2 separate regions of the Homo sapiens genome follow, and region 2 is linked to region 1. The links come from fine-mapping of genetic effects on gene expression. A gene starts in region 1. The other region holds a variant in brackets. All regions are shown on one strand. Distances are between the middles of the regions. Region 1 holds the start of SEPTIN5 (septin 5). Region 2 has its middle 27 kb from the start of SEPTIN5.

Region 1 (16,107 bases):
AGGAGTTCAAGACCAGCATGGGCTACAAAGAGAGATCTCGTCTCTACAAAAAATATTTTAAAAATTAGCCAGATGTGGTGGTGTGTGTCTGTAGTCCCAGCTACTCCGGAAGTTGAGATGGGAAGATTCCTTGAGCCAGGGAGATTGAGGCTGTAGTGAGCTGTGATTGGGCCACTGCACTCCAGCCTGGGCAACAAAGTGAGACTCTGCCACTACAAAAATAAAAATAAATAATAACAATAATAATAAAAGAGGGTCCGAGAGATACCCTTCACCCCTTCCACCATGTGAAATTATAGAGAAAATATGATCATCTATGAAGTGGGCTCCACTCTCTCCAGACGCCAAATCTGCTGGTGCCTCGATCTTGGACTTCCAGCCTCCAGAGCCGTGAGAAATAAATGTTTATTGCTTAAGCCCTGCAGTCTAAGGAGTTGTGTCATAGCAGCCCAAACAGACTATGACACCCTGTATTCGTTTGCTGAGGTTGCTGCAACAAGGTCCCACCAACTGGGTTGCTTAAATGAGGCGGTAATGATGGAGGGCGTTCAGCCTGCACTCAGAAAGGTCTTTGCAGATGGCTGGAGGCCCTGGAGCCTGGAAGGAGGTGGATCTCAGGAATTTCACCCACACACACACACATATCTCTGGCCAAATCAAGTTCTTTGCCCATTTTTGAATCAGACTGTCTTGTTGATGATGATAGTAGGCTCTCTTTGTGATTCTCAAAAATAACCTCGAGGATCAGGGCAGCCAAGACAGTCCCCTGAGGCACAAGTGGGGCATGGGCCCCTGCCCCATGCTGCAAGATGACTGGGCCCTGGCATGGGACAGGGGCTTCTGAGGATGCAGGGGTCTGTAGTTGGACCCTTGGTTTGACCAGTGTCTGTCACAGTGTCTGTCTGGGAGTCACGGGCCCAGACCCTGGGCCAGAGGTCGGGCAAGGCTTTGCAGGCTGTTTTGGTAGCAAGGCCCAAACCTGGCCAATTGCATGCTGGCCCTGCACCAGAAGAAGGAGACCTGCCCAACAAGGCCCTCACCCAGGCCGAGCCCCTGTGCATCAGCCCTGCCTCCCTCACCCCACCTGCCGTGGCCAGCACCTGCCCAGGGCCCCTCTGCTGGGCTCCAGGTACTCCCCCGAACTCTAAGCCAGCACTCGAGGCCCAGCCCCGCTTTCCTGGCTATGCAGGCTTGTGGCATGTTGATCCCCCAACGTGAAGCCCCAAGGAAAGAGGGTCTCTGCCACCACTCCGGGTGTATGGGGTCTTCTGATCTGTGCCGCTGTGAGATTTGCGGCTGGCAGCTGCAGTGCAGACCAGAGGTACGAGTCCTGCCCTCACCAGTGCCCTCCGCCTGCACCCCTTGCTGGTTGGGAAGTCCTAGAGGGAGGACTGGGTGGCACGCTGGCACTGTCCTGCCAAGAGGGCCACACGCAGCTGCTCACCAGGCGAGAGGGGGCAGGACTCACTCAAGACGGGCCTGCAGCTGAATGGCTGTGAAGATCCCTGGCTGCAGAACGAGCCCTTCGGCAAGAGCCCCGGGGAGGGGACAGAGTAACTCCTTTGCCCTGCAAGGCCCCGCTTGGGTCTCCCCAGGTTCAGCTCCCAGGTGCACCTGATCATGCTTCCTTCTTTGGCTGAAACCTGCTCGGCCACCTCTGAGGGGATGCTGGTCAAAGCATGCAGGGTTGAGGGCTGAGCCTCGTACCTCCTGCCTGCTTTTCCGGTGAGGACAAGGGGCCCCTCCTTTCCTGCAAAAGCAGCCCCTGTCTTAGGGGCTCTGTCTCCTGCTGCTCCCCCATCTCTAGGGGACCCTAAAAGCCTCCACCACTTTAAAGGCAGCCTTTGGAACAAGGAGGGGCAGGAATCCACTTCAGTCCAGGACGTGACAGCCGGCTGGCCACTGGCCACGGAGGTCCAGCGACATGCTTTCCCCAGTCAAGTGGAAGGACTTTGGCGGCATCCTGGTACAGGGTGTGTCTGTCTCCACCAACGGGGAATCCCCTGCTCAGGGCTGATCATGGCTCCAGCCTACAATGGGTGCAACACATGCTTGATGGGAAATGGGGTCCAACCTGGGGCAAATGAGGAGCAGGGCAGAGCTGCCACCACGCCCTGCAAGTGGGAGCAGGAGCCCTCACGCAGGCTGGCCCCGCTCTGCCAATGGCCCTGGCCATGGCACCCGGGGATGGCAGCTCCTCACCCTCCTGACCCACACCATCCGCCCCCGCAGCAATGTGTGCTGTGCATTCTGGGGCAGGCAGAGCTCTGGCTGTCCTCCATGGGAGAGGCGGCCTCTGTGGCGTTCAGTCCGGGGGGCTGGAGAGGACACAATGGCAGGGAATGAGCTGAGACTGGGGTCCTCATCCTCACCCAGGTATGGCCATCACCTGAGGCCTCGAAACCAGGTGATGGGCCGCCAAGTTGAGGGCTCTGGCAACCACCTTCCCCGTGGGAGCCTGGGTGTGCAACAGGCAGTGCATTTGCACGCAGCACCAGGGTCCAGGGAACAGAGGTCCTGAAGACGGGACAGTAGGGTCCTGTTTATTCCAGAGTGATTTTCAGATCTCTCTTGCCTGACTGGGAGGTAGATGCAGTGGGGAGCTGGAGCCAGTCCCTGGAGCCCAGCGCTGAGCTCTTTGTGATGGAGGGGTGGGGTGAGCCGCAGGATCTAGGTCACCGTGCTCTGGCCCTGCTCTCTGCCTTTCGCAAGCGCTTGCTCCCGTGGGATGTTTGTCATGCTTCCATGCATGACACAGGAGAATATCAACATTGGTGCCATTTCACATCTCTTCATTCATCTGCTATTCTTCCACCTTCAGCTTCTCATAAAATCACAGAACTGCAGTGAGGACCTCTGCCTGCCGGGACAGCCTGGGGATGGTCCCGTGCAGCCCCCTCAGGCAGCATCCCTGTGGAGGGTTCCCCTCCGCCCCCTACCGTGGGGAGCTCTTCCCAGCTGAGTCACACTGCACGCCTGGTCCCTACCCTGGGCTGCTCTCTGTGTTATCTTGCAGGCGCCGTCCCAGATCCTTCAGGGGACTCTGAAGGCCCATCAGATGTGGCTGCAGACCCACCTCCCTCAGACCCTCAGCTCTGGATCCAGGCTGGCTCCCTGCCGTGGAGCACAGGCGCCCTTTGTAGCACTCACTCCAGCTGCCCAGGGAATCGGGGACTTGGTGTGGACTGAGACTCAGCCCCCTTGAAGCCCTATTCTGTCCACCGCTGCAAGACATAGGCGGCTTTAAGCAGGACCAGGCCGCACCCTCCAGGCAGAGACAGCTGCTGTGGGTTCTGTGCTCTTCTAATGGGCATGTCTTCCCATCGGTGATGAGGACTGATTTGTGCAGTGACCCCCTTACATTTTTCTGAAAAGGAGATCAAGGAAAACATTCTTCAGTAGAATCCTCACTGTGCACACACTTCCCCTTGTGCTCGGTGACAGCCACTGCCTTTGGGAGCAGGGAGGACGCCCCAGAACCTCCTGGTCTCCGCACACCCCCCTGAGCTGGGCTGAGCACACAAGCACCCCTCTGCAGACAGTAGAGGTTTTGGGATTCAGAATATGCAGTCTGAAGCTCCCCAGAGCCTGGCTCTTTAGTCAGGCCCTCCTTGCCCGCCCTGTGAATCCACGCCTAGGAGCCTGTGCCCCCACCCAGCAGGAGCTGATGCTGCTGAGCTTCCCAGGTGCCAGACAGGGGCTGAGTGTGGGGGCCAGGGAGCCAGTCGGGAGTCTGCTGCCTGGCAGGCCATGTCCTGCAGAAGAGAGGCCAGCATAGGGCACGGTGGGCCTGGAGGGGCTGGAGACAGTGCTGCTGGGTCGGCAGAGCTAGAGAAGGGCAGCCCAGGCAGGGGGCACACTAGTGCCAAGGTGCAGGGGCATGAAGCTGCAGGTCACACGGCCTCCCTCGGAGCCCCCAGGTACTGGGGGTGGGTTCAAATCTCACAGGGTTGGCGGGCGAGGGCTTCAGGAACAGCAGGGACAGGAGCATGAGAGCAGTAGAAAAATGCAGGGGTCAGGAGGATCATCTGGGACCCACCAGGTTGCTGGTGAATTCAGGGGATAGAAGGGATGTGAGCTCAGGCCTCGAGCAGCTGCCTGATTGGGACAGCCCCTGGCTGGGCCGCGACCAGGTCACAGCACTTTGCAGGAGTCAGGCCTGGGCTCCACGGTCGTGGGTTCTAGTCTCGGCTGTTTAGTCTCAAGCAGATCTCCACCGCGCCCTGACCTCCACTTCCTGCGTCTACTCAGGGTGAAAAAACACCCCATTCCCAGCACAGGTCAGGGTTGCCCGAGTTGATCATGCAGGTAGGCCTGTGGGGCTCTCAGGTGCCTGACACCCTGCATGCATCTTGGCCTCTTCCCTCATCCTCAGCCTCAGATGGACTGAGCCATCTGGAACCTGTCAGTGGTGGCCTCAGCCCTAACTGCAGATGACAGGCTTGGGAGTGTGGCGACATGTGTCACCTGGAGCAAACTGCTCCCCCTCTGAAGCCTGTCACCCACAAGACCTGCTCCCAAGGGCCAATGGCAGGTGCCTTATTCTTTCGTCGCCATCACCGTTGCCACCTCCCCACCAGCTCCATCCTTCTCCGGGTCCCAGCCCTGGGGCGCTCACTCCCCTGTGTGCTGAGGGAGGCCCAGCATGGTTCAAATGCAGCCTCTGGAGAATTTCTTCACTAAGAGGCTTTTTCTGAAAAGAGTCAAGCTATTTGTAGCCCAAGTTGGTTGAACAGATTTTTCTTGGTGTAGCTTATTTTTTTATTCATTAACTTCTTTTCCTTATGAATTAAAAAATAGCATTTTTTTTTCCACAAAGGAGTGCTTTATTTACTTCTTTTTGTACCACAGCCAGCGCTTCCTCTGCCTGCTGGGGAAAGTGGATGCACACACCCACTTTGGCAGGCAGTTTTCTTTCAAGCCATGGCATCTTGGAGAGGTAAGTGTGTGTGTTCAGACCACTGCCCTGTGGCTCCAGCCCCCCTGATATCAGCCACAGCCCCAAGGCTTGGGTGTTGTTTGTTTGTTTTTTCATTTTTTTTGAGACAAGGTCTCACTCTGTTGCCCAGGCTGGAGTGCAGTGGCACCATCACGGCTCACTGCATGCAGCCTCAAACTCCCAGGCTCAAGTGAGCCTCTGGCCTCAGCCTCCTGAGTAGCTGAGACTACAGACTCATGCCACCACAGCCAGTTTTTTTTTTTTAATTTTTAATTTTTATAGAAACGGGGTCTCACATTCTTGCCCAGACTGGTCTCAAACTCTTGGCCTCAAGTCATCCTCCCACCTTGGCCACCGAAAGTGCTACAATGATAGGCGTGAGCCACCAGGCCTGCCTGGTTGGCTTTTTGGTGAACAGGAGCATAATAAGGGTTTCACTGGGCTGTCAGCCTCCATTGTGGTGGCCAGTATCTCAAAGCCTCACCTGGCAGAACTGGAGACGCGTCTGCTGACCGATGCCCTCATGACCCATTTTCCTGACTTCAGAAATGTCCCATGCAGACACTATGCCATCCAGCAGGCCTCCCAGCTAGACAGGGTGCAGCCTCGATGTGTCTGTGGAGGGACTCGGGCTGTCCCTGCACTCACAGTCATGGTGACCAAAGTCCCAGAGTAAGGGAGCAGATGCCGCTTCCCCCTTCCAGCCCAGGCATTTTACATGAGGCGCTGACCCAGGACCACCCTTGACTTCACTCTTCCAAGGAGTGGCTCCCAGTCCTATATATTCCATCAGCCTCCAGGCTGGCTGTCCCTTAAACACTGGTCTCCAATCTAACTGCATTTCTGTAAGTAATCTTTTGGGACAGACTTTTTTAAAAAAGATCATGTTTATGCCGTATTCCTCATCTTTCTTGTCTTCTATCTCCAGATTTGTTTTAAAACCTATTACTCCTGTATACATGTGCCTCCCACCCTTTGAGCTATGCCCTTGACCTGCTATGCACTTGTCTCAAGGCCAAGTTCAAACCCCCTAACCCAAGGCTGTCCAGAGCTGCCCTGCCACCTGAGCCATGGGGAGGGGCGCTGAGCTGGTGCCTTTCACAGGCTGCCTGCCTCCCCCTGGGCAGGGCTCCTGTCTCTCCTCCTTTGTCTCCACAAGCACAGGCTTGCATGGGTCAGCACGTGGTGAACAGCCAACCATCATTTTCCAATTCTTTCCAAAAAGTCCTGTCTATGCTCAGAAGTCCTGCCTGGCCCTTTGAGTGCCCCTACCCCCACACACACATTCTTTTTTTTTTTTTTTTTTTTTTTTTTTTGAGACGGAGTCTGGCTCTTTGGCTCAGGCTGGAGTGGAGTGCAGTGGTGCGATCTCGGCTCACTGCAACCTCCGCCTTCTGAGTTCAAGTGATTCTCCTGCCTCAGTCTCCTGAATAGCTGGGACTACAGGCATGTGCCACCATGCCTAGCTAATTTTTTGTATTTTTAATAGACGGGGTTTCACCGTGTTAGCCAGGATGGTCTTGATCTCCTGACCTCAACACACATTTCTTTATCGAAATTCCAAATTCTCCAAAGCTCAGAAACATAAAGGTTTTTCAAAACTCAGTGGCAAAGCTGGACCTGAACGATGCGCCATCACTTACTGTCTTTATTTCTTCCAGTTCACCTGAATACATATGTTTTGCCCCGAAAATATAAATGGGTCTGATTATGAGGAGCAGCCCCAGGTTCCAAAGAGGTGCCACATAATGTATGATGTATACAAAAAAGCCTGAGTTCCAAACACATCTTGGATGAGAGGTTGGGACTGTGGGGGATCCCTACACTGGTTAGAGTTCTAGACCCAGAGCAGGGTTATGGTCAACGGCGCTCTGGCCACAGAATGCAGCAGAGCAAGGACTGTGGAACAAAGACGCGGCTTACATGAATTTTTCACTTACCGTGCTGGGTGCTGGTGATTCAGAGATGGAAAGGCCCTAGCGACACCCCCCTCCACCCAGGGAGCCCACGGGCCAGCAGAGGGACCAAGGGGCACAGGACGGGTGGGGAGCAGAGGCGGATTCCCTGGCTGTGGAGGTACTGTCTATACGGGGTGCAGGAGACATCTCCATACAAGGGGGCCCTCACCTGGGGAGGTGGTGACCGCAAGCCTGACAGCCCCAAAGCCTTCAGAGATGCCGCCTGGGGACACTTTGGGAAAGTCCAGGCGGAGGACACCTGGGAATGTGATAGTGACACAAATGACCGGAGAGACTTGCTCTCAGTCACTGAGTCTGGCTGACTCACTGAAGATTAGGGCCTGAACTTCCCCCTCTGTAAATGGGGTGCAGGCCCTGGCCCTGCCTTCACAGTGCCCCTCGGTCCCCTACAAGCCTTCTCCGCAGGGTGGGATCGGGTCTGCCTGGAGCATCCCCACAGCCTATGGGTCAGCAGAGAAGCAGGCGCAGAGCTGGGGTGAGACGGTCAGGGCCGGTCCTGCCAGACACCTCAGATCACTCCTCTTCACAAATAATCCCATTTTACAGCCCAGGAAGAGAGAGGCCGGACCACTGCCCAAAAGCCTGTGGCCTACAGCCTGCCAGGTGCGTCTGCTCGCAGAGCAGGTCTGCGCAGCACCGAGCGGTCAGCAGGGGCAATGCTGGGCACTGGCCAGCCGCGCCAGGACCATCCCTGCTGACCTCGGCGGGGTGGGGCGGAGCGTGCAGGGTCTGGCCCGGAAAGCCAGGGCAGGCTTTAGAGAAGGGCCACCGGACGGATGGTCCGAGGACCGGCATGGACCCGGGTCCCAGCGAGGGCGGGGGGAGCGTAAGGCTGGGCCTGGGCTGCGGCACCGGGGAGGTGGCGGGGAGGAGGCCGGCAGGAACAGCCGTGCAGGGCGGGGGCGGCGCGGGTCTGGTCGGGTGACCCCGGGCGCGGCCAGGGCTGTAGGAGGCGAGGGCGTCGCCCCGAGGCCGTGGTCTCGGGTCCATGGTGGGGGACCTGGGTCCCCGCCCCCCCGGGCCGCCCTGGGTCGCGCGTGGGCGCGGCGGGCGCCGATTGGCTGCCGGGCGCGCGGGCGGAGCGGGCGGCGGCGGCGGCGGCGCGGAGGGGCCGCTCACCCCGCAGCCCGGCCTCGGCCTCCGCCGCTTGTCGTCGCGCCCCGCCCGCGAGCCCGCCCCGCACGTCCCCCGCCGGCGGCCACCATGAGCACAGGCCTGCGGTACAAGAGCAAGCTGGCGACCCCAGGTGAGCCCAGCGCCTGCCCGCGTGCCCGCGCGCGCCTTTGTCCCCGCCGCCCGCGCGCCTCTCACCGTGTCTCTCCGTCTCTCCCCCGCCCGCCGGCCCGGACCCGCTCGGAACCGGACCCGGACTCGACCCCGACCCCGACCCCGCAGAGGACAAGCAGGTACGTGCGCAGCGCCGCTCCCCCGCCGGGAGACCCGGCCGGCTGTCACCCATTGTGACACTAGCGCCTTGGGCGCCCAGGCGCGACCCCGCCCCCGCCGGCCCTCACCCAGCCCTGTCGCGATCACCGATTGTCAGCCGGGCAGTGCCGCCGCGCCTGGGGCTTCAGAGGAGAGGAGTGGGGGCCCTGGTCCCCGGACCCGCACAGCAGGGACCCTGCGCCCCTCCCCAGGATGGGGGGATGGGCAGAGTGTCCCCCTCCCACAGGGCCAGTGCCAGCATCTCCTGCTGACCTGGCCTGTAGGCCATGAGCTGGGGGTCCTGGGTGAGGCCATGGTCGTGGCAGGCCACGCTGGGGGAGGGGAGTCAGGCTCCATCAGCCAGCACAGTCCCTGAACAGCCCTACAGCAGAGGGCCTGTGGTCACCACCCACCTCCCCTGCACCTTCATGCCCCTTTCCCTCCCCATACACAAATTTGAGTGTTCAGGTCTGCAACAGGGACTCTTCCCCAGATTGGGAACCCCCAGGGTCTGGTCTGAGTCATTCTGGGTGCCCAGATGGGTCCTGGGACCCTGTGGGTACAAATAGGCTTGTGGCTTCTCAAAAGGGTTGGCCCCACCCTCCAGGAAAGCAAGACTGGACAGGAGGCTGGTCTAGGCACCTGGGTGAAACCCAGCCGAGCTCAGGGTTAAACAATGCTGTGAGGCCCCTGGGGTGGGGCGGGGGCTGACAACCAGGTGGGCTGGGGGGGCTGGGGAAAGCCTGCTGGTGTCCTCTCTGGCTTGAGCTCAGCCATCTTTGGAGGAAAAAAGAAGAGCCCAATTCTGGCACCAGGGTGGCACTGGCAGCCCCCATCAGGGATGGAGTTTCTCAGGAGCCATGGATGCTGAGTGGAACTCCAGAGTCCTGGCCCAGGGTGCAGCAGGCAGGGCAGGAGGGCGGGCAGGGGGGCCAGGAGCTGGGGGAGTCACTGGCTGACCAGTGCCATTCTCCTGGAAGGGACACACCCCACCCAGAGGTGGATGAGGCTCTCTGGGAGGGGCCCCTTGGGGAGCCAGGCTGGGAGCTGCCTCCCCATCACAGCAGGTCAGACAAAGCCTGAGATGCAGGGACACATGCGTCAGGCTACTGTTTGAGGGAAATGGAAGGAACTGAGGCTGGGAAAGCCAGGAGGCCAGGCCCCTGAGGCTTCTCCTGTGCCTGCAGGTGTCCCCAGCTTGACCCAAGGGCACTCTGAGACCCTGGGCTCCAGCCACTGCTGTTGGGTGCAGCCAGGTTCTCTTGCCCATTACTGCAGGGTGGGGACCCCCTCCTGCTGAGGTGCCCATCGTTTGAGGTCAACCGGGAGTCCACCTCACCCCATCCCAGGCCTCCCAGGCCTCCAAGCCCAGAGGAAGAAGGCACTGTGTGGCCAAGGAAGGGAGCCCCGGAGCAGGAGCCAGGCCAGGTGTCTGGGTGACCAGTGGGTCTGGGGGAGCTGGAAGCACATGGCAGCTTCCCTGCTACCACCGTTGCTGAGCCTCAGCCTGTCCAAGCATTCTTTTTGCTCTTTGAAAGGGGGCTGTAGAGGCATTGGGGGAGTTCCGTCACTACGCTCTGTGCCCCCACCTCCTCACAGGCAGCACCGGTGATCTCTTGGCCCTGGCTGCTGCTCCCAGAGCTGACTCGGGTGATTCTAAGAATGGAAGTGCCAGAGAGGCTCAGGCATTGGGAGGAGATGGGCGCAGCTGTGTCATATGGCTCAGGAAGCCCTGGGAGTATCTTTTGTCACTTGGGGACCAGAGAAAGGGGGTGGCAGGTACGGCCCCTTCCTTGAGGCTCCCCCAGGGAATCCACAGGCCCTGACTGGGCCCCAGTGGGTGGCAGGGCAGGTGGGTTGAACGCTGAGAGTGAGATTCTTGCCCTCCTGACCTGGGCCTCCCCAGAGGCTGTGCCTTACCAATGGGGAAACTGAGGCAGGCAGTCTGAGAGCCACACACTCTGTTAGACACCTCCTAGCCTGAGGCCTAGGCCCAGGGCTGTCTGTCTTCCTGGAGATGCCCTGGGCCTGAGATGCCAGCCTGTCTGGGTGGGTGCTGGGCTTCGAGGTGTGGACCCTCAGTTGGAAACTGGGTGGGACTCAGCCTAGAGGCTTCCTGCAGGTCAGGGCCATGGAAGGCTGGGGCCAGTGAGGAGGCTTTCTGGCAGCAAGGACTGAGGGATGCACTGGTAGAGCTGGGGGGCCTGGAGCTGCCCCCTTTCCCTGGGATGAAAGGCTCTCCTGTTCCCAGCTGTGGGCCTGCCCCTCCTCCCCAGGTGCCAGTGGTCCAGGCCCCACAACAGGACCAGGGCCTGGACAGGAAGTGGAGGAGGTCTCTCAGCCAGGAGAGCCTAAGGGAGGGCTGGTGGCGGGTGGGGTGGGGTGGGGTTGGGGCCTCCAGCTTCTAATGTTCTAATGTGCAGGGGCTTGGCCTGACCAGTCCTACCCTGGAACCTTTCCAGGCCCCATGTCCTGCTCCGCTGGGCTTGCCTGTTGGGATTCTACTGGGGTCATGGAGGTGGGTGGCCCACAGAGCGGAGCTCGGGAGACCCCCGCAGTCCCTGGAGTAGCCACATGGGAGGGAGGCCCGGCTGGCAGGAGCTCCCAGTCCCTCCAATCCTGTGGGTCAGAGCTGGTGAGGATGCTCAGAGGGCAAGGGAATGTCCACAGAAGCACGTGGGAGATGGGTCCCATCCCACCCCCACCCCTGTCTCTGAGGGCAGGGCCACCTGAGGGCTGCAGGGCAGCGCATGGGTGGCCGGCGTTTATTCAGCAGGCTGGCGGGGGCTTCCAAGTTTTGCAGGGACCTCCAGTACTCCGGCAGCCTGCACCCTTCCTTTCCCTTCCCTTCCCTTCTGTCCACCCTAAGCCTCCTAGGGGACAGGCAGGCTGGACTTCAGAAAAGGTGGGCTCTGCCCTCCTCCGGTCCCCCGAATGTCTTGGGAAAGAGTCCACCAAACACACATGCACACACCCGCGCACACGCACATACCCAATGCATGCACACACGTACACACACACGCATACACGCATGTATACACGCGCACACACGCAGGCATTACACACACACACATTACACACACACACCCGCACGGACGCGCACACACAAACGCGCGCACGCACGCACGCACGCACGGGGGAGGTCAGCCCCAAGCAGGGCTGGGGAGGGGTGCAGGGCGCGGCGTGTCTGTGGGCACTTGGGGCGTCGAGACGCCGCCGGGAGGTTTTCGGGCAAGTCTGCGAGAAGACGGCGGGCCCTGAACTGGGCGGGTACCCGCGCTGTTGCGCGTGGGTCCCGGGAGCGGCCTCCGGCGCCCTCTGGCGGGCGGAAGCCGCGCAGCACCTCTTGGGGGCGGGACGCGCGGTGGCTACCGACTCCCGGCCCGCCCCGGCCCGCGTGCAGGACCCGGTCGTCCCCTCCTGCTGTCCTGGAGCCCGGACTGAGGCCCCGGGGGCGCGGCAGGGCTCCCGGTCCACGCGAGCCATGGCCCGACCGCGCCTCGGCTCAGCCCTGCCCTCCGCAGCCGCTTTCGGGTGGCTCCGCCCGCGGCCCAATTTCCAGGCGACCGTTTCCCGGCGACGGCGGGCGGGGCCGTCTCTGCCGCCCCCCGCCGCGCGCTCCGCGGGCGCCTGCGACGCCCCGCCTCTGGCTCGGGTGCGGGAGCGGGGCCTGCCCGGACTGCGACGCCGCCACAGCTTGGGGCCAGTTCGCCCAGTCAGGGGGATGGCTCGGTCGGCCTCGGGGGTCGACGATCCCCCGGGTAGGCGACGTGCCCTGTCCAGGCCTCACTTCCCGCGTCCGCAAAACGGGGTGGACAACGCAGCCTAAGGCAGAGCCGCGCCAAGGTCCCTCGCTGTCGCCGGGCTCTGGCGGCCTGACCGGGCCTGGGGTCCGAGCGTGCCCCCGGGCCTGGGGGGGTCGCCGCGATGGACTCGCTGGCAGCGCCCCAGGACCGCCTGGTGGAGCAGCTGCTGTCGCCGCGGACCCAGGCCCAGAGGCGGCTCAAGGTGCGTGTGTGGAGAGGGCGGAACGTGGGTCTGTGACCCCGCGGGCTCCGGGACTCGGCATGGGGTCCCCGTCCCCGCGCGCCACGGCCCGCCAGCGCCTAGGCTCAGCCCTTCCCTCCGCAGCGGCCTCGCAGGTCCGCGGCCCCACGGTGGGGCGACGTGCCCTGTCCAGGCCTCACCTCACGCGACTCCAAAACGCGGCGGAGAATGCGGCCGTGGGACCCCTCCAGGGGCCCCAAGGGTCTGCGGGGGCTGGGCGCCTGGGCGCGCGGGCGGGGGAGGCTCGGCGCCGCGGTCTATAAATAGGCGCTGCTCCGCCACCGCCGCTGCCGCCGCCCCCGCGGCTGGATCCGGGCCAGGTGGGGCCTCCCGCCCCCTGGCACTCTCCGGAGGGGTGAGTGTCGAGGCCCCCAGCTTCTCCGGCTTATGGAGGGCCTTGAGTGTGTCCCAGGGGTCCCAATCCTGCTGCCCTCTGCCCGAGGAGGGAGGACATCGCCTGTGCCTGCTGCGGCCTGACATCTCCCCACGGAATAAATACAGTGTCGGTCCCTGCAGAGCCCTCCCTGGGATTGGGGCCAGGGGTGCCTTCTCCTGCCACCACCTCGCCTGCCTTCTTATCTCCAGGCTTTTGCCCACGGGCCCTCCCCTTATTTTTGCCAACGAAATGCCCCACCCTGGGAACCGTACCCTCTGCTGTCTCCTCATACCGCATTTGGTAAGAGACAGGGTATTGGGCTTCTGGAGAAACCTTTGTGTCCCTACCCTGTTCCATCCTGTCCCCAGGACATTGACAAGCAGTACGTGGGCTTCGCCACACTGCCCAACCAGGTGCACCGCAAGTCGGTGAAGAAAGGCTTTGACTTCACACTCATGGTGGCTGGTGAGTGGGCCAGGCTCCTCGGGGGAGTGGCTGGGGTCACTGGCCAGCCAAGCTCTGTCGTTGGAGCCCCAGACCTAACGCAGCTCCTTCTCTGTACCTGTGTGCAGGTGAGTCAGGCCTGGGGAAGTCCACACTGGTCCACAGCCTCTTCCTGACAGACTTGTACAAGGACCGGAAGCTGCTCAGTGCTGAGGGTGAGTGGCCCCCAGGAGGCCCTGGCACTGATCCCCAGTCCCCTTCCATGGGACCTCTCCAAGGACTCCCTTTCAGGTCCAGCTCCCACTGTTCTGTTCTCGCGGTGTGGGTCCCCTGGGGGTAGGGCCAAGGCACCAAGATGGATGAGGACGAGGGTCCTGGCTGCCAAGGGTGAGGGGCTGAGGGTTGGAGAGGCCCTTCCAGTGGCCCCTTCCCCGTAGAGCGCATCAGCCAGACGGTAGAGATTCTAAAACACACGGTGGACATTGAGGAGAAGGGAGTCAAGCTGAAGCTCACCATCGTGGACACGCCGGGATTCGGGGACGCTGTCAACAACACCGAGTGGTGAGTGAGGCCTGCTGAGAAAGGCCTTGCCTAGGCGGCCACAGCACTCGAGGCCTGGCCTCACCTCCCTCCTGCCCACAGCTGGAAGCCCATCACCGACTATGTGGACCAGCAGTTTGAGCAGTACTTCCGTGATGAGAGCGGCCTCAACCGAAAGAACATCCAAGACAACCGAGTGCACTGCTGCCTATACTTCATCTCCCCCTTCGGGCATGGGTGTGTGGCTGTCCTGGGGCCAGGCTCGGGAGTGCAGCCCCTACAATATGGCCCCCTGGCTGTGCCTATGCCCACCCTTGGCTGCTCTCGGCAGGCTGCGGCCAGTGGATGTGGGTTTCATGAAGGCATTGCATGAGAAGGTCAACATCGTGCCTCTCATCGCCAAAGCTGACTGTCTTGTCCCCAGTGAGATCCGGAAGCTGAAGGAGCGGGTGAGCCTGCCGTCGCACAGGGGCCTGGCCAGGGCCCTGGGGCTGAGAGTACCAGGGGGACTTGTCTGGCCTCAAATCTGATGGTCCTTGCCCCACCACAGATCCGGGAGGAGATTGACAAGTTTGGGATCCATGTATACCAGTTCCCTGAGTGTGACTCGGACGAGGATGAGGACTTCAAGCAGCAGGACCGGGAACTGAAGGTGAACATGCAGACTGGTGGGGCAGGGGGGATGGAGCTGGTGAGGGGCAGAACCAGAGGGCTTTGTCTCCTTCACATTGAGCCTGCTGGAGGAGGGCCAGGTCAGCCCAGTTGGGTGCAAGAGTCATTTGTTCTAGGAGTAGAGGACCTGTACCCCCTTCATCCAGGGCTAGAAGGTAAAGGTCACCATGTCTTTGCCTGGCTGGGGTGGGTCATGTGGGCCCCGTGTGGTGCTTGGCAGGTATGGAGCACTTGCCCAGATCCAGAGGTGCAGCAGTGGGCCAGGCCCCCAACCCCAACCCTCTTCCCATGGGTCACCAGAGGAAGGGGCTGCCCCAGTGGCACACCCTGGCTCCCAGATTTCTGAGCTCCAGGGTTGGTGGCTTTGGGTGCCCCGGCAGCTAGAGTGATGATGGAGACCATGCCAGGGGCAGGTGGCCACCAGGGCAGGGGCATCAGCATGGGGAGACATAGGCTCAGCCCTGGGGAGGGAAGGGGCAGCTGGAGGGGGTGGTTCTTGATGAGGGAGGAGATGAGGAGGGAGCATGCCTGGTTGGGCATAGCCTGGAAAGGCCCTGGAATGTGAGCCACATGGGCTCTGGCTCCAGCCAGGGGCAGAGAGGCCAGAAAGGGGCAACGCCAGGATCTCTTTGAGGAGAGATAGTTGATGGTGATGCTGGAGGGGTGCCCCGGGAGTTACATGCCCGTTTCCCATCAGTAACCGTGCAATTACGCTCACCGGGTGTGAGCCTTTCTCCCTCCTTCCCCCAGGAGAGCGCGCCCTTCGCCGTTATAGGCAGCAACACGGTGGTGGAGGCCAAGGGGCAGCGGGTCCGGGGCCGACTGTACCCCTGGGGGATCGTGGAGGGTGAGTAGAGTCTTGGGGTACCAGGTCTGGTGGGGGAAGGCTGTCCTGGGCCGGCGCCAGCCCACTACCCACCCCCACCCCGCAGTGGAGAACCAGGCGCATTGCGACTTCGTGAAGCTGCGCAACATGCTCATCCGCACGCATATGCACGACCTCAAGGACGTGACGTGCGACGTGCACTACGAGAACTACCGCGCGCACTGCATCCAGCAGATGACCAGGTGCGCGCCCCAGCCGCGAGCCAGACCTCGCCCCTCTGGCCCCGCCCACGTCTCCATAACTGAGGGCCGGTCCTGTCAGCCCACCCAGACTTGAACTTTGCACCATTCCCTAAGCCCCCCCCCTCCCCCAGAGCCTGGTCTCCCTAGAACCAAGTCCAGGGCTGTGAGGGCTCCGGAGGGCAGGGCCTCAGCAGTGGCGGGGATGGGCCAGGCATCGCCAGCCCACGCTGAGCCTCCCGGTGGCGCCGCCCCGCCCATCCTCCCCCCCGCCCCGCGCAGCAAACTGACCCAGGACAGCCGCATGGAGAGCCCCATCCCGATCCTGCCGCTGCCCACCCCGGACGCCGAGACTGAGAAGCTTATCAGGATGAAGGATGAGGAAGTATGTGGGGCGGCGGGGGCGGCGGAGGCGGGCGTCAGGGATGCTCCTCCGCGGTGCTGCTCACCCGCCGGGTTGTCTCCGCCCGCAGCTGAGGCGCATGCAGGAGATGCTGCAGAGGATGAAGCAGCAGATGCAGGACCAGTGACGCTCGCCGCGGACACACCGTCCGTCTCCGGGACGCCCTCGCACCCCTGGACACCAGACCGGACTGTTCCCGACCCGGAGACGCGGGGCC
Region 2 (16,107 bases), 27 kb before region 1:
CAGAGCTGTGAAGAATACAGTTCTGTGTTTAAGCCACTCAGTTTACAGTATTTTTTAATAGCAGTCCAATCTAACAAAGCCACCACCCCTGGCTGGGCCCCAGCTAGACAGAAAGCCTGTCAGGGCACTCTAGGGTTTAACTCCCCAAGCTCAGAGAGCGTGTTGGGGCCAGCTGGTGTCCCACACCTGGGCCACTTATCTGCAGGACAGGGTGATGGGGGCTCCCCCGTGTGTCGTGACCTCTGGGGGAGGTTTTCTAGAAAGTGCATACACTTGCTCTGTACGCATCTCCACCCTGATCCAGGGTGCTCCCATCTCTGCCCCAAGCACCTGCTCCAGAGGACGCATGGTCCCACCGTCCAGGGTCAAGAACCCCGGACCAGGCCCTGGCCCGGTTCTGGTCAGGCTCGGCCACCAGGGGGCGGTGTGGGCTGCAGGAGGCTGCTGTCCCTGGAGCTTCCCAGTTCCAGACCAGGACCCCACCCCACTGGGTGGGCGTCTCCAAGGCCCTGGTGGATTCTGTAAGCTCGGACCCGTTAATAGAAGTGGTTCTCTATTGTCCCAGTCGCCTAAAATGCTGGGGACCTCTCAGGTGTCTGCTGATGGAAAGGCAGCCAGAGCCAGCCAAGGCAATTCCCAAGCCCACCGCTCAGCCTTGCAGAACTGACTGCACAAGGGTCACCCAGGGGAAATGGTTTCTAAAAATACAGGGACTTCCACTTCCAGGAAAATTGAGTAGAAGTACTTTTCCCTGTTCCTCCCACTATGTACGGCTAAAAGCCTGGACACCACACAGAAAGCAAACATAAGCGGATTCTGAAAGGTGAAGAGAAGAGCAGAGATCCGTCAGGGACCTCAGGACCCAAGGATGACGGGGCGGGCAGCTCCATGTGGTTTCTTTTGGCCTCATATATCTCACTCCTGGAGCTGAAGAAGCCAGCAACCTGGAAACGCCAACAGACACAGACAAAATTACTCCAATGAAAGCTGCTGTGTCTAGCCAAAGGACCAGGAGGCAGCAGCCTCGCAAGGTCAAAACGTTTAGGCGATAACCTGTCTACTCCAGCCATCACCACCGAAACACCCTCGGCCACTCCAGCAAAGGCTGAGCGGGAGCCTAGGCTCCCCACTTTGGGAAGCCGTGGCAAGGAACCCCAACATCTCCCCCTGTGGTGTCAGAGAGGCCAAGGAGGGAGCCGAGACCGCCGCACCCACCCCTGACCCATACCCCATTGTGGAACAGCCTGAGCTTCCACCCCATCTGCCAGTAATGCCGCCCTCTCCCCCTCCCTGCTGGGGGTGGGGGTTGGTGTCAGAGGAGGCAAAGCGAGGAGCCTGGCTCTTCACTACTACTCAGTGGTAACGAGGCCACCCCAATGGGCTGTCAGCAGAAACCACATGGGGAGCCAGACCCTGCCCAGAGTAAAGAGAAAAAGAGCTCCCTTGGGTATAAACGGAGATTGAGTGGGGAACCTGGACTTTTTTCCACCCTGCAGTAACAAGGGGCCAGAGCAGCGTCAAAAAAACAACAACAGCACAACACCACAATGTTTACAAAAGCAGCAATAGAAGACTTTGGGGCCAGGCATGGTGGCTCATGTCTGTAATCCTAGCACTTTGGGAGGCCAAGGCGGCTGGATTACTTGAGGCCAGGAGTTTGAGGCCAGCCTGGCCAATATGGTGAAACCCTGTCTCTACTAAAACTCTAAAAATTAGCTGGGCGTGGTGGCGCACGCCTGTAATCCCAGCTACTCAGGAGGCTGAGGCAGGAGAATTGCTTGAACCTGGGAGGCGGAGGTTGCAGTGAGCCGAGGTTGTGCCACTGCACTCCAGCCTGGGTGACAGAGCAAGACTCTGTCTCAAGAAAAAAAAAAAAAATAGAGAAGACTGATGGGTGTGTTTATTACCTTGATTGTGGTGATGGTTTCATGGGTCTGTATAGACATATGTCAAAACTCATCAAACTGCCTATTTTAAATATGTAGTTTCTTGGGTATCAATTATACCTCGATAAAGCTGTTTGAAAAACAGAAAATTTAAATCAGATCCAGAGTCTCATAACACAAAAAATGTCCAGGTTTCAATAGAAAACCGCTCATTACCAGGAAGATGGTTCTCAGTATGATGCAACGGACTGAAACTGTTGAATGCAACTAAGTGAAAAGGGACAATCAGTAGATGCCAACAGTAGGTGGCAAAGACGTTAGAATTAGCTCACAAAGATTGTAAAGCAGCCATCATAAAGATGCTTCAGCAAACAACTAAGAACGTGCTTGAAACAAATGAAAAAATAGCCTCAGCAAAGAAAGAGAGAGAATATCTTAGGAAAGAAATTGAAGATATAAAGAAATTGGAATGGAAATTTTAGAAGTGAAAAATACAATAACTGAAGTATAAACTCAGTGGATGGGCTCAAGAACAGGATGAAGGGGACAGAGGAAAGAACCAGTGAACTGGAAGACAGAACAATAGAAAGTACCCAGTCTGAACAACAGAGAAAATAGACTGAAAAAGAAAAAAAAGAACAGTCTCAGGTATATGTGGGACTGCAACAAAAGACCTAATATTTGTGTCATTGGTGGTTAAGAAAGAGAGGAGAAAGCGTGCAAGGCTGATAAAGTACTCAACAACGGCTAAAACTCCCCATATTTGGCAAGAGACACAAACCTACAGATTCAGAATGAATCCCAAACAAGGAAAACCCAAAGCAATCCATGCCAAGGCGCATCACAGTGAAATTTCTAAAAACTAAGGACAAAGCAAAAATCTTGAAAATAGCCAGAGAAAGCAATACCAATACCAGTACCAATACTCTATAGGGAAAAACCATTTGCATTACTGCAGATTTCCCTTCGGGACTGATGGAGGCCGGAATGAAGTGGCACGATATTTTTCAAGTGCTGAAGGAAAGGAACCATCAGCCCAGAATCTTATATGCAGTGAAAATATCCTTCAGGAATGAAAGGGAAATCAAGACATTCTCAAATGAAGGAAAACTAAGAGAATTTGTTGCCAAAGACTTACCCAAAAACACCAGCTGAAGGAAGTTATTTAAATGGGAAGGAAATAATTAAATAAGGAAGGAAGGAAAAAAACCTAATAAGTAAAAATGTGAGTAAATACAATAGGCTTTTCTTCTCCTCTTCAATTTTGTAAGTTATGTCTGATGGCTGAAGCAAAATTTATTGCACTGCCTAATGTGATTCTAAGTGTATGTATAGGAAAGATTTAAGACAATTACATTATAAATGGGGCAGGATAATGGGATACAAAGAGAGGTAAGTTTCCTACCCTTCACTCAGACTGAAAAAATGACACCATCAGTAGATTGTGATAAGTTGTATATAATGTGGAACATCCACTAAAAGGCTGTACAAGGAGCTACATTCAAAAACACGATGGAGGGCCAGGCACAGTGGCTCACACCTATAATCTCAGCACTTTGGGAGGCTGAGGCAGAAGGATTGCTTGAGGACAGGGGTTCGAGACCAGCCTGGGCAACATAGCGAGACCCTTACTCCACAAAACATTAAAAAATTAGCCGGGCATGGAGGCACATGGCTGTGTCCTAGCTACCCAGAAGGCTGAGGTGGGAGGATTATTTAAGCCCAGGAGTTTAAGGTTACAGTGAGTCATGTCACTCCAGCCTGGGGAACAAAGTAAGACTCTGTCTCCAAAAAAAAAAAAAAAAAAATGCAAACAAAAAACAAAAACAACCCACACTATTGATCAATCAAAATGGAATTCTAAAAAATGTTTAACTGATAAGAAGTCAGGACAAAGGAAACAGAAACAAAAAACAGGGAGCAAACAGAAAACAGATCAGAATAAAATGGTACAATTGCTGGGTGCAGTGGCTCAAGCCTGTAATCCCAGCACTTTGGGAGGCTGAGGTGGGAGGATCATGAGGTCAGAAGATCAAGACCATCCTGGCTAACACGGTGAAATCCTGTCTCTACTAAAAATACAAAAAATTAGCCGGGCGTGGTGGCGGGCACCTGCAGTCCCAGCTACATGGGAGGCTGAGGCAGGAAAACGGCGTGAACTCGGGAGGTGGAGCTTGCAGTAAGCCGAGATCGCACCACTGCACTCCAGCCTGGGCGACAGAGCAAGACTCCGTCTCAAAAATAAATAAATAAATAAATAAATAAAATGGCACAATTATATCCTAACATATCAATAATTACATTAAATGTAAATGTCTTAACTCACCAATTAAAAGAGATTGGTAAGATGGATTTTAAAACATGTATCAACTATATACTATCTACAAGAAATTCACTTCAAGATGTTTCACACAGATATTAATCAAAGGAAAGCAGGAGTGGCTATATTAGTATCAAATGAGGCAGACTTCAGGGCAAAGAAACTTACCAGGGATAAGACTGACATGCAATAATAAAAGGGTCAATGCAACAAGAATGCATAGTAATCCTAAACATTTATCTAACAAACAACAGAACTGCAAAATATATACAACAAAAAGGGATAGAACTGAAAGGAGAAATAGACAAATCCACTATTGTGGTTGGATACGTCAACACTCCTCTCTCAACAATTGATAGATCAACTAGACAGAAAATCAGCAAGAAAATAGAAGCACGCAATGATATCGTCAACCAACAGGATCTAATTGACATTTATTGAACACTTTATTCCAACAGCAGATTATCCTTTCTTTCCAAGTGCCCACGAAACATATACCAATATAGACCATATTCTGGGGCACAAAACAAACCTTAACAATTTTCTAAAAATTGAAATCACATGGTGTGGGTTCTCCAAACACAATGAATTCAAACTACAAATCAACAGAAAGATAACAGAAAAACCTCCAAATACTTGAAAACTAAACCACTCATTTATAAGTAATCCATGGGAAAAAGGAGTTTCAAGAGATATTTTAAAAAATACATTGAGCTGAATGAAAATGGAGTACAAATGTCAAAACACAGAAAAAGCATTGTGGATGGGGAAAATTTATAGCATTAAACACATATATTAGAAAAGAGGAAAAGTCTCAAATCGATAAGCTCAAAAACCTCAAGAAACTAGGAAAAGAAGAGCAAAATAAACCCAAGGCAAGCAGAAGGATGAAAATAATAAAAGATAAGGGCAAAAATTAATAAAATCCTTATAAAAATAATAGAGAAAATCAATGAAAGAAAGAGCTGATTGTCTTTTTTTGTGGGGGGAGGGGGACGGAGTCTTGCTCTGTTGCCCAGGCTGGAGTGCAGTGGCGCAATCTCGGCTCACCGCAAACTCCACCTCCCAGGTTCAAGCGAGTCTCCTGCCTCAGCCTCCCGAGTAGCTGGGACTACAGGCACGCACCACCACGCCCAGCTAACTTTTGTATTTCAGTAGAGACGAGGTTTCACCATATCGGCCAGGCTGGTCTTGAACTCCTGACCTCGTAATCCTCCTGCCTCAGCCTCCCAAAGTGCTGGGATTACAGGTATGAGCCACTACACCCAGCCAAAAGCTGATTCTTTGAAAGGTCAATAAAACTGACAAAACTCTATCAATACTGACCAAAGAAAAAAAAAGACATAGATTACCAATATCAGGAATGATAACTCTACTCTATACATATAAATTTGACAACTTGGATGAAATGAACCAATTTCTTGAAAAATACAAACTACCACAACTTACCCAATATGAAAAAGATAATTTGAATAGGGAATTTAATTAATAATTTTAGAACTCCTAAAAAAAGAAATCTCCGGACTCCTATCGTTTAAATAGATAATTCTATCAAATCTTTAAAGAAAAATTTATCACCACTGTTCCAGAAAATAGGTGAGGAAAGAAGACTTTCCAATTTGTTTTATGCAGCTGGAATTACAGTGATACCAAAACCAGACAAAGATAGTAGAAAAAAAGAAAATCTCAGAAAAATATCCCTCATGAATATAGACCAAGAAAATATTTAATAAAATATTAGCAAATAGAATTCAGCACTACATACAAATAATTGTACACCATTACCAAGTGGAGTTTACTCCTGGAATGGATGACTGGTTAAACATTCAAAAAGCAAACAATGTAATCCACTGAATTCACAGGCTAACAAAGAAAAATCATATCAATTGATGCACAAAAAGCATTTGACAAAAATCGGCTGGGCATGGTGGCTCACGCCTGTAATTCCAGCACTTTGGGAGGCTGAGGAGGGTGGATCACGAGGTCAGGAGATCGAGACCATCCTGGCTAACATGGTGAAACCCCATCTCTACTAAAAATACAAAAAATTAGCCAGGCGTGGTGGCGGGTGCCTGCAGTCCCAGCTACTTGGGAGGCTGAGGCAGAAGAATGGTGTGAACCCGGGAGGCGGAGCTTGCAGTGAGCCGAGATCATGCCACTGCACTCCAGCCTGGGCGACAGAGCAAGACTCCGTCTCAAAAAAAAAAAAAGCATTTGACAAAATTCAACACTCATTCATAACAGAAATTCTAAAACTAGGAATAAAGGGGGAACTTTGTCAACTTTGTAAAGGGCACCTATAAAATACCTATAGCTAATGTGATACTCTTTTTTTTTTTGAGATGGAGTCTCACTCTGTCACCCAGGCTGGATGGAGTGCAGTGGCGTGATCTCAGCTCACTGCAAGCTCCACCTCCTGGGTTCACGCCATTCTCTTGCCTCAGCCTCCCAAGTAGCTGGGACTACAGGTGCCCACCACCACACCTGGCTAATGTTTTGTATTTTTAGTAGAGACATGGTTTCACCATGTTAGCCAGGATGGTCTCGATCTCCTGACCTTGTGATCCATCCGCCTCGGCCTCCCAAAGTGCTGGGATTACAGGCTTGAGCCACCGCGCCTGGCCAGCTAATGTGATACTTGATGGTGAAAACTAAGTTCTTTCCTTCCAGGATCCAAAGAGAAGATGCCTGCTCTCACCACTCTTACTCAGCACAGAGCTGGGAGTTCTAGCCAGTACAATAAGGCAAGAAAAGGAAATAAAAGGCACACAGACAGGAAAGGAAGAAACAAAACTGCCCTCATTTACAGATAACATGATTGTCTCTGCATAGAAAATTCCAAGGAATCTACCCTCAAAAAAGCCCTCCTAGAACTAATAAGTGAGTTTAACAAGGTCGCAAGACATAAGATAAACGATCAAAAGTCAATTCTATTTCTACATGCTAGCAACAAACACATGGGCACTGACATTAAAAATACAATACCATTTAAAATCCCTCAAAAAATGAAACACTTAGGTATAAATCTAACATATATAGAACATAGGTATGTGCTGTGCACTGGTAGCCTCAGCTACTCAGGAGGCTGAGAGGGGAGGATCACTTGAGCACAGGTGTTCAAGGCTGCAGTGAGCTATGATCTATGCCACTGGACTCCAGCCTGGGTGACAAAGTGAGACCTCATCTCTAAAAAGATTTAAAAAATTAAATTAAGTTTAAAAATGCAGAATTTGAACACTGAAAACTATACAATACTGATAGGAAAAAAAAGAATTGAAGTTTTTATTGATCCCTGCAACAACTGGCATAAATCTTCAAAGAATTATGCTAAGTGGAAAAAGCCAGGCCTGAAGGATGATATACTATATGATTCCATGTCCACTTACATAACACTGTTGAAATCAACATTCTAGAAATGGAAGACACATCAGCCATTGCTGGAGGTTAGGAAAGGGCTTCGGTGGGAGGGAGGTGCGTGTGACCGTAAAAGGGCAGCAGGAGGGAGTCTCTGGTGACAGAAATATCCCGTATCTTGACCGTACCAGTGTCAGCATCCAGGCTATGATGTCCTACCGTTGCAAGATGGTACCATTGGGTACAAGGGACCTCTCTGTGTTATTTCTTACAGCTGCCTGTGAATCTACAATGATCTCCACAGAAAAAATTCAATTAAAAAATATTTTAAAGCACATAACAGGCAGTCATGTGTAATTTGGGTCACGTAGAACAAGTCTGGATCATGAAGTCTGTGAGGCTGGTGTACACTTAACTGAGAGTGTGTCTAGCTTTAAACCGGTATCTGCATTTAAAAAAAAAAAAAAAGGCAGAGTCGGGGGCCACTCTCAGAGAGCACTATTAGGTGCTCACCGGCAGAACCCAGACATTGCATTTTCAAAGCTTTTAAGCTTTTCAGCTGCACTCTGAGGAACCGGCTATTGATCTGTGTCCTTGGTGCACAGCCCTTGCACTTCTTTCTGCCCCCACGCCCTGCGGCCCCTCTCGGCTCTGAACAGGGGCCCTGCTCTCTGGGACTCCACATCCCTGCAAAATTTGTCTCCCCTTCCCTGGGTTCCTCCCCCGGGGCTGAGCTGAGGACAAGGGCCTGGCCTCCTCCTTGGAGAACCCCACAGCACCCTGCATTTCGGCGTGGTCCATGGGCTCTTCTCAGGGGCTCCTCACGTTGTGCAAAGGGGTAAGGGAGCAGGGCCAGCTGCAGATCTCCCTCCCGCTGTGACAAGGACATCCTAGTCGAAGAGCCCGTTTATCTTCGCTCTTAAGGCCAGGCTCTCTCAGGTCATTGTTGCCAAAGAAATGAATTGCAGCACAGCTCCGCAGGTCCCTGCACAACTGGGGCAAGGGCTGGCACTGGGCCAGCGGGAACCTGTTGGGGAGGCTGCAAGGTGCTTCTCTGCATCCAAGGCTGCCACACCCTGTGCACACTGTGGAGCTGGGTGGATGGGGTGTGCTCAGGAGGGGCTCTCGGCCCTCGGCTGGGAGTCAGAGGCGTGGTGGGTGGGGCGGGGAGGGGTGTCACAGCTGCAGGGCAGCCTTGATGTCTGCACTTGGCTTTTTAATTTGTAGTCACAGCCAACAAGTGTGGAAACCGCCTCAGGACCGGCTTGAGTGGAGCGGCTGCGGGAGTTACTTCATGACTG[T/C]GGTCTCACGCTGTGTTTCGCCACCCATCCCTGCCTGGCCTGGCTTCCTTCCTTCCTCCTGGGTACGTTGGCCCTTGGCTCTCTCCTCATTAACTGGCCCCTCGGACCCCGGCTGGCCAGCTGTCTGCAGCCTCCTGGGTGACACCTTCACCCCTGCCTCCTCGGGGGTCTGCTGCCGCCACATCAATCTCCCTAACACCCTGGGCATGCCACCCCTCTGGAGACCTCCCTAGTCTCTCTCGCAGGGCCCCCAACCTGCTCAGCCCAGGCCCACTGCCCTCTCCCTGCCCGGACACGTGCTCCCGTGGCCCGGCCGTGCCTGCCCACACACCTGCCCTCTCTGAGGTTCACATGTGGCATCCAGGGGCCCTTCCCCAACAGCTCTGCCTGGTGCAGCCTCCCCCTCAGCCTCCTCTTCCCCCCGAGCAGGGTTTGCAGAGGCCCAGAGGCTGCCGGGATGAGTAGATGTTGGGATCCTGCTTACTGGGCGTGTCTTATCCCCCAGAGCAATGGCCTTGGAGGTCAGGGACCCAGCATGGCCATGCTGGCTTGGGGTTTAGGAGCTGTCTCACCAGAGCCCCGCCTCAGCCCACAGCCCCGGGCCTGTTTCCTTGAAGGCTCCCCAGAGCCCCATGCCTGGTTTTCTGGCCAGAGCCCTTGGCAGTGACCCCTGCTCTCCGCCTGCAGCTCTGGGCGTCCTCTCAGCCCCAAGCCCTGATAGGTGCCCCCTGTCTCTGTGCCTGCAGCCTTCAGGAGTGGCCCACACATTGGCTTTTATCTCTGGGCTCTCTGTCACCTCCTCTCCCTCCTGCCACCCTCTGCTCACAGGCTGCGGGTGTGGGGCATCCAGGAGCTGGCCGGTGGAAAGAGGAGCAGGTGCCCTTACGCAGTGGGGAGCAGACACACTTGTGCTGCTTTTCCCTTGGGGCTTGGGGTGGCCACTGGGGCAGGACATGAGGACAGACCAGCCCTCGTCCCCCCAGTGCAGGGGGCAGATCTCACTGCCAGGTGAAACCCTGCTGACCATCCATGTGGACCCCTCAGCTTGGCTGGATGCAGGAGGTGGTTGCACAGTTGCAGGTGGGGCATGGAGGGAGTGGAGCAGCCCCTTACCCCAACACAGGCCCCATTCCTGCTTAACCGGATGTTCCGAGGAGAAGCACAGCCCAACAGGTGTGCACAGGAAGCTCCCATCAGTGCTGTCCTGGGAAAGGCCCATCCTGAATGAAGTGTGTTGCTCAGATCCGAAGAGCGCTGCATCTTCACAGGTCAGGGTGGAAACCTCCTGGTGCACGGCCCGGGAGGGGCACCCGTGGCAGGGCCAGCCCCTGTGAGGCTGCACAGATGAGCTCGAGCAGAGAGTCTGGGGCCGGCCACATCCCACGTCCGACCCTGAGCTGGGGCCCTGGGGGAGCCCCTGTGGCTTTCGTACCAGCCACGCCTGTATGTAGAGAGCTGAGTGTCTGCTGTGGAAGACCACGAGTCACATGGCAGACATGGGCACTCGGCCCAGGCGATGCTGACCCATCCATCAGCTCCTACAGGACCACAAGCTCCCGTTGTGGTGGCCAGAGACTCCCAATGGCCACAGACCCACTCAGGGCTCTCTCTGGGGTCTTCCGGAGAAAAGGAAAGCTCAATGAGCTCCTTAAACCTTTCACTTCAAGTTGTTGCTTTTAAACATTTTGCTTCGTGGCCTTTCTTGCTCCTTCTGTAAAAATCTACATTGTGCTACCATTTTTTTTTTTTTTTGGCAAGGTGTCACTCTGCCACCCAGGCTAGAGTGCAGTGCTGTGATCATGACTCACTGTAGCCTCAAACTCCTGGGCTCAAAGGATCCTCCAGCCTCAGCCTCCCAAGTAGCTGGGACTACAGGTATATCCCACAGCATCCAGCTAATTTTTTGAAAATTTTTTTGGTAGAGATGAGGTCTTACCATGTTGGCCAGGCTGGTCTCAAACTCCTGGGCTCAAGCGATCCTCCTGTCTCGGCCTCCCAAAGTGCTGGGATTACAGGCGTGAGCCACTATGCCCACTCAACATAGTGATTTTCTAACTCCTTCATTTCTTCTCCATTTAGTAGTTGGCTTTCCACCGTAAGGAAAACTGCCCAGTCTCCCCTCTGGCTACCAGTGAAGGCTTGTGGGGTTTTCTTTGATTCGGTGAGTTATATTCAGTGGCTGTGGGGCTTGTTTGGATGCTGGCTGACCGGCCCCGTGTCCCTGTCATGGTGGAGCACGCCCTTGCTTCCTGGCACCACCGCTGCACCCGGCTCAGCCTGCACTTTAACTGCTGCAGCGCTGGAGGCAGCCACTTCCCTGAGGAGCCCTGCTTCCTTTTGTTTGTTTGTTTTTGTTTCTTTGCTTTGAGACGGAGCCTCATTCTGTTGCCCAGGCTGGAGCGCCCTGGCAGGATCATGGCTCTTTGGCTCAGCCTCCCAAGTAGCTGGGACTACAGGTCCCCAACATCATACTTGATTACATTTTTAAAATTGTTTATAGAGATGGGGTCTCATTATGTTGCCCAGGCTGGTCTCAAACTCCTGGGCTTAAGTGATCCTCCTGCCCTGGCCTCCCAAAGTGCTGGGATTATAGGCGTGAGCCACCACGCCCGACCAAGGCCAGCTTTCTTAGAACAGAGTATTTCTTCCACACTGGGGTCCAGGCATGAGTTGTGCTCACTTTACCATGGTATCATTTAGATCCTAGAAAAAAATTATTTGTGAGATTATTATAATATGTATAAATAAATATACAATTAATAATACTATTAAACATCATTGAATTGTGATTATATTATTAATATAGTTGTATTATTAATATGTGATTGTACTATTAATTTTAATTATCGTGTAATTAGTTATAATGCATCCATAATAACTCATACCATGAATTCACAGTCACTCCTAGTCCTGCCCGGCCCTGCAGGCTCCTCCTTGTGTCCGTCATTCCGTATCTGTACCTCCTTCTACAAGAGAGCCCTAACTTCTAACAGCATCACTATGTCTATCATCTATTTAGCCCTCCAAACACACAAGACACTTCCAGAATCTTCTTATTCTCCAGAGGAAAATGTTTCATCAAAACACCAGAGGCAGCCAGCATTTTGACAAGAAAACACAACAAACTTCATTTCTTTGGAAATTTGATCTAGGAAAATGTGTCTCTCTCATTTTGCTAATGGATGTCTGTTTATCAGTCAGAGACCATGAAACGACTCCTTATTTTGAATATCAGATTTTCTTCTTATTCTCAAACCTCAAAACAGCTTGGTAATAATTTATTTGGAAATTATCCGAAAGGTAAAAATAAAAACAGAAGCAAGTAATATGCCTTGTTACTGCTCCTTAATTAGGTAAGAGCCTCATTTCTTGGGCTGCTGGGATGTAAATTCTGCATAAAATGGCTGGCTTTCTTTTTAAGGCTTTGCAGCAGTGTTAACATTCGGCTGCCAACTAAGTCGATTTTAATCGCCTTTACAGGAACCTTCACTTTTTCTGTTTGTTCCATTCCACTCTTTCCTCAGTGGATAATCCCGCATGTTAAGATTCCTGTGCAGCCGAGGGAGGCGGCTTTTGGCCGGGAGCTTGTGCTCTGGGTGTGAGCGTGGCTGTTGGGAACGCCTTCTGCTCAGAATTCCGTGGTCTCAGCAGATCGTTCAGTCTAGCCACTGGGACGGGGCCGACCGCACACTGCTGGACCTCTGAGCGGAAGATGTGTGAGGTTAGGAGGGAAGGAATAAACAAAGTCGCCTTCTTCCCTGCTGACCTGCCTTGGTATGTCACCATTACTCAGCTCCTTACAGAACAGGAGCTTCAAGCTTTCACCGGACAGGCTGGCTTCTTCCCGGGAGCCCCCGCCCAAGGTGGGGCCTGGTGGGGTGGGGCCACCATCGCTGCTGGAAGCTTTAGCTCTTTTCCCTCAGCTTGGCCTCCTTTGGCAACTAATTTTTTAACTTTTTCTAATAGGTAACAGAGTCCCAAGATTCCAAGTTCCAGGAGCATGAAAGGACTCACTTGTGGAGATTCCTGCCTGGGGCTCCCACCCACCTAAGGAATGCCATCCTTGTCACCGGCTCACGGGGCAGCTCTTTGGTATCCTTCCAGGGTGGTGTGTACAAGTACAGGCACATGGATGCATGGATGCATGAGCATTTTTTTCTTTTGCCGACATATTAATACACCCGGCAGCACTCTAGGCCCATTGGCCTGCAACTTTTCATTTGATTGATTTTTAATTATTTACTTTTTTAAAAAATTGTAGTTAAATATACATGACATATATTTACCATTTGAGTCTTTTTTTTTTTTTTGAGATGGAGTCTTGCTCTATCTCCCAGGCTGGAGTGCAGTGGTGTGATCTCGGCTCACTGCAACCTCCACAGCCTGATCCTGGGTTCAAGGGATTCTCCTGCCTCAGCCTCCCGAGTAGTTGGGATTACAGGCGCCTGCCACCATGCCTGGATAATTTTTTTTTCTTTTGAGACGGAGTCTTGCTCTGTCACCCAGGCTGGAGTGCAGTGGTGCAATCTCAGCTCACTGCAAGCTCCGCCTCCCAGGTTCACGCCATTCTCCTGCCTCAGCCTCCCGAATAGCTGCGACTACAGGTGCCCGCCACCACACCGGCTAATTTTTTGTATTTTTAGTAGAGACAGGGTTTCACCGTGTTAGCCAGGATGGTCTCGATCTCCTGACCTCGTGATCAGCCTGCCTCGGCCTCCCAAAGTGCTGGGATTAAAGGCATGAGCCACTGTGCCCGGCCTAATTTTTGTATTTCTGTAGAGACAGGATTTCACCATGTTGGCTAGGCTGGTCTCAAACTCTTGACCTCAGGTGATCTGCCCTCCTCGCCCTCCCAAAGTGTTGGGATTACAGGTGTGAGCCACAGCACCCAGACCATTTTTAAGTGCACAGTTCAGTGGTATTACATACATTCACAGTGTTGTATAATCGTCACCACCATCCATCTTCAGAACTTTATGCATCTTGCAAAACTAAAACCTGCCCCCATTAAACAGCAGCCCCCCTCATCCCCTGCCCCCAACCCCTGGCAACCCCTATTCTACTGTCCGTGCCTATGAACCTCACTACTCTATGCACCTCACATACGTGGAACCACATGGTATCTGCCCTTTCGTCGCTGGCGTCTCTTAGCATAACGTCCTCAAGGTTCATCGGTGTTGGGGCACGTGTCGGGATTTTATGGTGTGTGAATGACGTCTCAGTTTAAAATGTTCTAGAGTTACCCAGTGGTGATGGATACACAACTCTGAATATGCCAACAACTTCTGACTGGTACACTTTGAGTGGGTGATTGTATGGTCTTTGAATTGTGTCAATAAAGCTGTCATTTAAAATAAAATACCAATCCGTGCTGGCACAGAGAAGGACTGGGAGACTCCGGGCAGTGCGCAGGCCCCTGTGTCTAGGAGAGTGAGGGGCCTGCTGACCTCGTCCCGGGCAGGCGTCCCAAGAGTCTAAGTTCCAGGCCTTAGGTCTCCTTACGTGGGTCTTGTGCGCATGGCTCAGGTGGAGTGGCGACCTGAACAGTCGGCACTGCTACGTGAGGACGAGTGTGGCCCCAGATGGAAGGCCTGAGCGGAGGCAGCAGGGATGAGGGTGGCATGGGTGTTGTTATGCACTGATTTATGTTCTCCCTTCCAAAACTCCACACCAAAGCCCTCACCCCCAGGACCTCCGAATGTGTATTTGGAGGTAGGGTCCTTAAGGAGGTAGTTAAGTTAAAATAAATTCATGAGGGGGTAGGTCCTGATCCCATATGACTGGTGTCCTTCTAAGAAGAAATTGGGACACAGACATGTACAGAGGGACAACTCCGGGAGGACTCAGGGAGAAGGTGCCACCCGCAAGGCAAGGAGAGAGGCCTCAATCGGAACCAGCCCTGCCCACACCTTGATCTTGGACTCCCAGCCTCCGAGACAAGACAATAAATGCCTGTGGTTAAGCCACCGGTCTGCAGTGCCTCAGGACACAGACACAGGTGGTGATGAAGCCAGGCGAGAACATTTTGAATGCATCTAGGGATAGAATCGGCAGGACTTGCTGATGGATCCAATGCAGGACAAGTAGGTGACCCTGAGGATTTTATTTGAGCAAATGGTGCAGTCACCAGTCAGACGGGGGACCCCCGGGCAAGCACAGTGCAGTTTCTTTGCAGGTGCATCCATGAAGGGTGTGATGCCTACCAGACATTCAGGAGCTGCAGCCAGGTGGGCAGCCCACAGGGGAGTCTGGGCTTCTGGGAGGAAGATGCAGAGCCGTCCTGGACAGGGCAGCAGCAGCACCAGCCTTCACTGGAGCCGGGGCCTGCAGCCTCCATTGGTGGCACACCCAGGTGAGGTCTTCACACTGCCTACACTAAAGCAAATGAACAACAAAAATCATGAGAGACCCTTGGATCAGTTTTGCACGGGAGAAGTCATTTCTTTCTTTTCTTTTTTTTTTTTTCAAGATGGGGTCTCACTCTGACACCCAGGCTGGAGTGCCGTGGCGCGATCTCAGCTCACTGCAACTTCTGCCTCCCAGGCTCAAGTGATGCTCCCACCTCAGCCTCCTGAAGCTGGAACCACAGGCATGCGCCACCACACCTAGCTGTTTGTTTGTTTGTTTTGGTAGAGACGGGGTTTCGCCGTGTTGCCCAGGCTGGTCTCAAACTCCTGAGCACAAGCGATCTGGGATTACGAGTCACTGCGCAGGGTGGGGAGAAGTCATTTCTATGCGCCTCGGGGAAGCAGTGTGGACAAGGCCCGCAGGGCCCTGCTCTTGGGCTGATTCCCTTGAGGGAGAGCCTAATGTGTAAGTGAAAAATGAAATGTGCAGGAGAGCCACTGGTCAAGCAGCAGTGCTGGGGCAGCAGGCCCTGTCGGGGATGCCAGCAGGCTCAGAGCACAGCCAGGAGGAGCCGGCCTCCAGACAAAAGCACATTTGCTAAAATAACTTTGAGAAATTTTTTAATGTTTTTCAAATTTTTACCGAAATTTAGAAAAATTTCCTCTAAACTTTGCTTAAACCGTGCTAAAAAGTGGGGACAAGCCTGAACAAAGGCCTGACACCAGCAAAGGTCAGCGAGCAGTGCAGAAGAGGCGGGAAATATTGCCAGGAGGTGGCCAGGCAAGGAGAGGCGAGGGAGGTCCCCAGAGCGTCTCCCCACCCCCGATTGGACCCAAGGCACTGGGTAGTTTGCCGAGGGCAGTGCAGCCACCTTGGGCCAGGGTCCCAGCCGCTTGCC

What was found.
Region 2: its variant is fine-mapped to the expression of SEPTIN5 in whole blood (TOPMed, PIP above 0.99).

What each region holds. Positions count from the first base shown.
Region 1 is chr22:19,706,468-19,722,574 of GRCh38, forward strand. It overlaps SEPTIN5 (septin 5), which reads left to right and starts at 8,036. Exons shown (of 12, transcript NM_002688.6): 1 at 8,036-8,164; 2 at 8,314-8,324; 3 at 13,135-13,231; 4 at 13,339-13,425; 5 at 13,648-13,771; 6 at 13,853-13,987; 7 at 14,082-14,199; 8 at 14,301-14,402; 9 at 15,173-15,269; 10 at 15,355-15,490; 11 at 15,770-15,872; 12 at 15,961-16,107. The coding sequence starts at 8,122. The coding sequence ends at 16,017. It overlaps SEPT5-GP1BB (SEPT5-GP1BB readthrough), which reads left to right and starts at 10,753. Exons shown (of 12, transcript NR_037611.1): 1 at 10,753-12,351; 2 at 13,135-13,231; 3 at 13,339-13,425; 4 at 13,648-13,771; 5 at 13,853-13,987; 6 at 14,082-14,199; 7 at 14,301-14,402; 8 at 15,173-15,269; 9 at 15,355-15,490; 10 at 15,770-15,872; 11 at 15,961-16,107. It overlaps LOC124905079 (a long non-coding RNA gene), which reads right to left and starts at 8,328. Exons shown (of 2, transcript XR_007068003.1): 1 at 8,230-8,328; 2 at 2,523-3,367. RefSeq lists enhancers at 1-72, 2,178-2,685, 10,688-11,329, 11,330-11,970, 12,318-12,818 and 1 more and silencers at 11,386-11,805, 11,816-11,995, 11,972-12,142, 12,547-12,726.
Region 2 is chr22:19,679,356-19,695,462 of GRCh38, forward strand. No RefSeq gene overlaps it. Among named protein-coding and RNA genes, the nearest start is that of SEPTIN5, 27 kb to the right of the region's middle. RefSeq lists enhancers at 8,783-9,631, 12,614-13,173. The variant T/C (reference allele first, on the strand shown) is at 8,862.